Homo sapiens: one gene and its partner. The protein of the gene in region 1 binds, or shares a complex with, the protein of each later gene. Each region holds a gene or a part of one and is shown on either strand. Other genes may lie near its edges.

Region 1 (3,949 bases):
TGAGGTCAGGAGTTCAAGACCAGCCTGGCCAACATGGCGAAACCCCATCACTAGTAAAAATACAAAAATTAGCTGGGCATGGTGGCACGTGCCTGTAATCACAGCTACTCGGGAGGCTGAGGCAGGAGAATCGCTTGAACCCAGGAGACTGAGGTTGCAGTGAGCTGAGATCATGCAACTGCACTCCAGCCTGGGCAACACAGCAAGACTTCATCTCAAGAAAAAAAAAAAAGAAAACCTTGGAGTCATCCTCAATTCCTCTCTTTATTTCGTGCCCCATACAATATGCCAGCACAATCCTATCATCTTTTTTCAAAATGACACCCAGAACTGACCACTTCTCACCACCACCAATACCACTGCAAAGGGCTGAGCCACCAGCATCTCTCATCTGGACTATTAGAGTAATTTCCTCACTGGTCCCTCTTGTGGCTCCCACCTGGCTCAAGGTCCTCTGACTCCTGCCCAGCTCTCCTGATTTGGTCTCTTCCCCACCCTTCTCTGCTGTCTACTCTCACTCTCTCCATTTCAGTCATGGTGACTTTCATGATACCCCTCACACATACCAAGCCTTGTCCGGCCTCAGGGCCTTTGCTGTTACTATGCTTTCAGCTTGGGACACTTTCTTCTCATATCCTCATGGCTCCCTCTGCTGTCATCTCCTGATCTCTGCTTAAATGTCAACCCAGTGGCACTCCCTCTCCATCCCTCTGCATCTTCTTACCCTGTTTTCTTGTTCTTTACATCACCACCTGACATATCATGTTTTCTGGGTTTTATTTATAGTATGTCTCCACAACTAGATCAGAAGCTCTGCAGGGGTAGGGGTTTTTGTCTGTTTGGTTCACAGCTTCATCCCCAGTACCTAGAACAGTACTTGCCATAGACAAGGTGCTTTATATTTGTTGAAGGACTGAACATGGAGGAGTACAGTGAGGGATGGAAAGAGGAAATCAAAACTCACCCTTGAGCTGATTGGAAAAGACGCGTAGCAGGTCTCCCAGTGGGGGGCAGCAAGTGCACTTCAAATAGAAGACCCAGTGTAAGCAAAGCCTGACCCTCCTTCCTCTACCTGAACCTGTAGGTGCCAGAGGAGGCTAATTATGAGGCGGTCCCCGTGGAGGCCTATGGGCTGGCCATGCTGCGGGGCATGGGCTGGAAACCTGGCGAGGGCATCGGCCGCACCTTCAATCAGTGAGTTCTGGGATAGGGTCGAGGGGACAGACAGATCATCAGGCTGCAATCAAGATCCCCAGGGTCACTGCCAAACCAGAACCACCTAGGCAGGGAGGGAGGATACATTATCGCCCTAACTAATTCAGCAGCCCCTTCCACTACTGTTTTAAACTCCCATTTGCCCTTTGAAACTCTAATAGAATCCCATTTATATAAAGTTTGCCTCTAGGGACATCAATTTCCTCATCTGAAAAATGGGGGTAATAGTACTGACTTCATAGGTCTGTTGTGAGAGTTAAATGAAATTATACACATAGGCCAGGTAGTGGCTCATGCCTGTAATCCCAGCACTTTCGGAGACTGAGGCAGGAGGATCACTTAACTCCAGGAGTTTGAGACTGGCCTGGGCAACATAGGGAGGCCCCATCTCTACAAAAGATTAATTAATTTTAAGAAAAGAAATTAGGGCCGGGTGTGGTGGCTCACACATATAATCCCAGCACTTTGGGAGGCTGAGGTGGGTGGATCACGAGGTCAGGAGATCGAGACCATCCTGGCTAACACGGTGAAAGCCCATCTCTACTAAAAAAAAAAATACAAAAAATTAGCCGGGCATGGTGGCGGGTGCCTGTAGTCCCAGCTACTCAGGAGGCTGAGGCAGGAGAATGGCGTGAACCTGGGAGGCGGAGCTTGCAGTGAGCCGAAATTGCACCACTGCATTCCAGCCTGGGTGACAGTGAGACTCCGTCTCAAAAAAAAAAAAAAAAAGGAAAAGGAAAAGAAATTATATACATAAAGCACATACAGTAGGCCCTGACCCCAAGAAAGCGTAGACTAAACATTTGCTATTGTCATGCAGACTTGCAACCCTTTCTTCACAATTGCAAACTCAATAATTCTGAAAACCAAACATTTTTTCATAACCCATTGGCAGCCAAATATGACCTGAATTGGCGTTTTTTTTTTTTTTTTTTTTTTTTTTTTGAGATGGAGTCTCTGTCTGTCACCCAGGCTGGGATGCAGTGGCGCAATCTCGGCTCGCTGCGACCTCTACCTCCTGAGTTCAAGTGATTGTCCTGCCTCAGCCTCCTGAGTAGCTGGGATTACAGGCATGCACCAGCATGCCTGGTTAATTTTTGTATTTTTAGTAGAGATGGGGTTTCCCCATGTTGACCAGGCTGGTCTTGAACTCCTGACCTTAGGTGATCTACCAACCTCGGTCTCCCAAAGTGCTGGGATTACAGGCATGAGCCACCATGCCCAACCATGTTGAGTATTTATAATCCGGTTTCTCCTGCTCGGTGTGAATGTTCATATGATTTCCCCTGTAGAAATAGTATATTTGGTTACAGCGATCTGCCTCTGATCTCACTGTAGATATTATGTAATAGATGGTATATGCAGCATGTTATTAGGTTGAACCAAATGAAATTGCTGTTTCTGTAGGTCAAAAACAGTCCTAATATGAGATCAGAAAGGGCAACCTTGAAAATATTGGTGGGGGCTGGACACGGTGGCTCACACCTGTAATCTCAGCACTTTGGGAGGCCAAAGAGGACGGATCACCTGAGGTCAGGAGTTCAAGACCGGCCTGACCAACATGGTGAAACCCTGTCTCTACTAAAAATACAAAAATTAGCCGGGCATGGTGGCATGCGCCTGTAACCCCAGCAACTCGGGAGGCTGAGGCAGGAGAATCCCTTGAACCTGGGAGGTGGAGGTTGCATTGAGTCGAGATCGAGCCATTGTACTCCAGCCTGGATGACAAGAGCAAAACTCCATCTCCAAAAAAAAAGAAAAGAAAAGAAAATGTCAATGGGGCGGGTGGGGCGGGTTTGGGCAGGAAGAGGAAGTAAATAAGGTGTTGAAGACTGTTGCATCCTCTCCAACAAACCCATATTCCTCCCTGCAGAGTAGTGAAGCCCCGTGTCAACTCACTGAGGCCCAAGGGGTTAGGGCTGGGTGCCAACCTGACCGAGGCCCAGGCCTTGACCCCCACTGGCCCCTCCCGCATGCCAAGACCAGATGAGGAGCAAGAGAAAGATAAGGAAGATCAGCCTCAAGGGCTGGTGCCTGGAGGAGCTGTGGTGGTTCTTTCTGGCCCTCACCGAGGCCTCTATGGGAAGGTAAGGAACCAAGATATCCCGGGAGCCCAAAACAGGCAGCAGGGAAGGTTGATCCGAGGGTCAGATGGAGGAATAATTGGATTTGAGGTAGAAAGGCTGGGACTCCTAGTCTTTTAGGTCTGCTTGGCCCACTGCCTCACTCAGTAACCCAGGACCACTTGCTGGCCTTTGTGAGCCTCAGTTCCCAGCTAAAAGGAAGAGAATGCCATATGCCACAAGTCCCTGAAGATTAAATGCTTAAAGGATCCAAGGAAGCCCCACAGTCAGCTGAGGGAGACACAGGAACCAGACCTGGTCCCACTTCTCAGGGGTCAGAGTCTGGTTGGGGAGACAGAGGAAGCAGGCCTCTTAGAGGTAAGGGGTTGACATCTTGGTCCTAGGAATGTGGGTGGAGTCCACAACCCCTACCTGACTTCTTCCCCTCAACACTTTAGGTGGAAGGCCTTGATCCTGACAATGTTCGGGCCATGGTTCGTCTGGCTGTGGGGAGCCGGGTGGTGACTGTTAGTGAGTACTACCTGCGGCCTGTCTCCCAGCAGGAGTTTGACAAGAACACCTTGGATCTCAGTGAGTGAGCCTCTTGTAGAGCTAGGGGAGTTGGCAACGCATTCCTAGGGGTGGCAGGGCCTGGCTAATGGGGTGGTTTT
Region 2 (3,600 bases), on another chromosome or scaffold:
GGACAACACAGCGAGACCCTATCTCTACAAAAAAAATTAAAAAATTAGCTGGGTGTGGTGGCACATGCCTGTGGTCCCAGCTACTCGGGAGGCTGAAGTGGGAGGATCTCTTGAGCCCAAGAGGTCAAGGCTGCAGTAAGCCAAGATCTCACCTCTACAATCCAGCCTGGGTGACAGAATGAGACCCTGTCTCAAATTAAAAAAAAAATTTAACATGAAAAGAAAAACCAACCTTAAATACACTATCTTTACAGAATGTGTTTACTGTAGTATTTCGTTTCACTTCACTGAGAAAACAGCTAAAGAGTCAGGCTTCTAAAACACATATTGAGTCTTTGAAAGGTAGCTTCATGAAGTAGAAAAAGCAGAGTTTTGAAACCCAGGTATGTGGTCCTGAGCAAGCTATGAGGCAGAAGAATAGCGGCTGGAAGCAGGGAACCTAGGGCCCATCCATGCTGACTGGGTATCAGAGGCTACTCCCATTTCAACCCCTCCTTTTTCTGCGTGGCAGTTGAAAAATGAAAGTACCTCTTATTGGTCCCCTCCCGCAACCAATCAGACTGGTTGTGGGCCAATGGGCAACCTCTAGAGGGTATTTAAAGCCCAGAAAATTCTATAACCAATGCTCTTGAGCCGCTTGCACCAGGCGGTGCCCACCCTGTAGAGTGTACTTTCATTTAAAATAAATCTCTGCTTTCGCTGCCCTGCTTTGTTTGTGCGTTTTGTCCAATTCTTTGTTGAAAACGCCAAGAACTCGGACAGCTACCCTCAACTGGTAACAGTTACCTGCTGGGCCTACTTCCTCATCTCTTAAACGGGGCTGTCACCCCGAATCAGACAGTAAGGTAAGATTTCCACGATTGTTGAAAAAGCCTGACACATAGTAGGAACTCAAAGTCTATACAAAGACTTAAAGTTCATAAAACAATAGACAAACGGAGAAATCCACTGAAGTTTAGGGTGAATAAATCTAATAACTGTTTGGTAAAAACTACACTGACAATCATTGTCTGGTCAGTGTTCAACATTTACGTGAAACACTGAGCTTTTACAAGGCCAAGCCCCGTTTTACGTTAAATTCTCGCAACCACCCTGAGGATGGTTCCGTTTTTAAAGCCGCGTTCCTGCCGAGGAAACAATGGCCCTCGGGGTTAAGACACTGCCCAACACCGGCCGCGCCTGATAGACGCAGGTTCCGAATGCAGGCCCCCTCCAAAGTCTTGCCCACTGCTCCACAATGCCTCAACACCCAACATTTCATCCTCAACTCCAAATCCATCTCTTCAGGGCCGCAAAAAAGCGTTACTTCCCAAAGGGCGTGTTCTCCAAGAACTGCATTTAGCATTTCAGATCAGAGTGACCCGAACTCAATAGGATTACGACAAAAACTAGTGAGATTCAGATAACACCGTTACATCGAAAGTTTTAATCCGTGACAGAGGAAATATTGCTTACGCCCTTAGGTAATTTCAAATGCACGTATGAAGGCCGTGCGGGTTTCTGCAGGCGAAGCAAAAGAAAGGTGGGGCCGGCAGGGTCGTGGGGCGGGGGTGGGGCATGACACCGTATCCCAGACGCAACTCGACCTCGTTTGCAAGAAATTCTGTATCCAACTCTCTTCAGTGCGTTTCGCCGCCCCTAGTCTAGTCTGGCTAGCCCCCAATTCCTTTAAAAGGGGTTAAAACGGGTGTTGCAGAAGAGAGAACACTCAGGTAGAAAGGGCCTGCGGCAGAGGCGCCCCCAAATCATGGAACCTGTTGGAAGAGTGAGGAAGGAACTCTGGGACCCCGAACATTCTCACGGGTGTAAAAAGACAAAGTAAATCCCCATTAGCCAAGTTGGGGAGAAGTCACATCCGTTACACAGCCTCTCCCAGACCGCCCTCTAGGAAGGACACCACATTTAAAAACACCGGCCTGCCTCCAGTCCTTGGCTGCCTCACAGCGATGCTCAGAGCCGGTTTCCCAAGGTCCGCGCGCCGCCTGCAAGGCGCAAACCCAAGCCGCTGCTGGTTGCTAGGAGATACTGGGCCAGCCATCTCCTCCAATCAGCACGCACCTCTTTGCGTCCAATCACAGAGGCAGGAAGGGCCGTGGTGGGAGGTGAAAGGTCATAGTCCTGTTTGGCGGCCATTTCTCTTGAAACTGCGGCTCGGGACCTGCGGTACCTGCTGTAGTCACGAGGGACGGGCGGCGGCCTGGTCGGCAGAGAGTAGCCTGCAACATTCGGCCGTGGTTACGATGGTAAGGAGAAAGAGAACGGCGGGAGAAGCGGGGAGAAAGAGAAGGAGGGAGACCAGCCTCGCGGGGCCTGCTGGTTCCTTCGCGCGTTTCCCATTCATCCGCGTGAGGCGCCGCGCACCCTGTCGCCAGCTCCTTTCACTCTGCTTTTAGGTTTCTGAGGCGCGTGCTCCTCCCGATGCCTTTCTTTTCCTAGGAGTGCCCGTGCCTTCTTCTCTTTGTTTGAATCCGGGCCTGGGGTATTCTTAGTTGGGGCTATAGGGTCGGGGTAAAAGTCAAAGAGAATTTGCACTTCCCACTTAACCACACTCCAGAATTCACTTTCATTCCGTGAAAGTAATGATACGGCCATGCTCTAGATTAACTCACTTGGGTGGGGAAGACAGACATTAGTCAAAAAATAACAAGTATGTAATTGCAAATAATAAGTGCTAAGAACAATGCAGACAGGAGGCTGTGAGGGTGCGCGTTAGACATTAGAGGCTTAGTCAGAGATGGCCTCCCTAGGAGGTGGAATTTAACTCGAAGCCTAAGTGTCATGAAATACGACCCTTTAAAGAGCAGGAGGAGGAGTGTACCGAGCACAGGGAATAGGAGCATAAGACCTGCGGCCGGAAAGAAAGCTTGGTCATTTGGAGAAATTGACAGAAAGGTATAGCCACTTGCGCGAATAGTGGTTAAGAGATGGTATCGGAGGAGCAGGCGTTGGGCAGGACCTCTTAGGCTGTATTGGGAGGTTTTGATTGTACTCCAAATCAATTTAAAATGATTCGGTTGGAAGCCATTGGATCATTTTAAGCAGAAATATGACAATCTGATGTGCACTTTAAAAAATCATAGTTACTGTGGTGGATAACAAATTGGAGAATGAAAACTGGAGACCCATTAGGTTATTGGAGTAATCGCCATATCAAGATCACTCCGAATATGCTCATGTTAGAGGGGGTTAGTAGCCAAGTTTCTTAGTTCTCTTCTTTGTTTGACTGGTGAGTGAGCAGAAGAGGGCAAAAACCGAAATCACTGGAGATGTTAATGGTTTGCTGAATAAATAGACATTAAGTAATTGCTGTAAGTAAGAGGCGGTGCTACTGACAAAGTCAGATAGGACCTAGCCCTAGCTTCCCCAGTTAAATACTGTCAAGCGTGATCTGCCCTCTGCTTCCTTCTGTAGTTTTATATTTGGGGCTTTGACTGACAATGCTGAATTGTATGTCCCCAAAACCACCTTGTTGCATCACTCTTCCCTCCTTTTACATAAGTAGCTAGCCTTGCCTGGAACAGCATTTTTTCCCGCTCTGGAAATAAACTCTTATCCTTTAAAACTGAGGTATTACTTATTTCAGGCAACCTTTCCTTTTTC

Evidence for each region.
Region 2: GPKOW (region 1) and SNRPF share a complex: the UniProt entries of both Homo sapiens proteins name them as parts of the minor spliceosome.

The regions. Positions count from the first base shown.
Region 1 is NC_000023.11:49,116,950-49,120,898, reverse strand, and holds part of GPKOW (G-patch domain and KOW motifs-containing protein), read left to right. Parts: intron 1-1,084; coding exon 1,085-1,194; intron 1,195-3,088; coding exon 3,089-3,302; intron 3,303-3,736; coding exon 3,737-3,869; intron 3,870-3,949. UniProt on the Homo sapiens protein: RNA-binding protein involved in pre-mRNA splicing. As a component of the minor spliceosome, involved in the splicing of U12-type introns in pre-mRNAs.
Region 2 is NC_000012.12:95,856,834-95,860,433, forward strand, and holds the start of SNRPF (small nuclear ribonucleoprotein F), read left to right. Parts: upstream 1-2,118; 5' UTR 2,119-2,240; coding exon 2,241-2,243; intron 2,244-3,600. UniProt on the Homo sapiens protein: Plays a role in pre-mRNA splicing as a core component of the spliceosomal U1, U2, U4 and U5 small nuclear ribonucleoproteins (snRNPs), the building blocks of the spliceosome.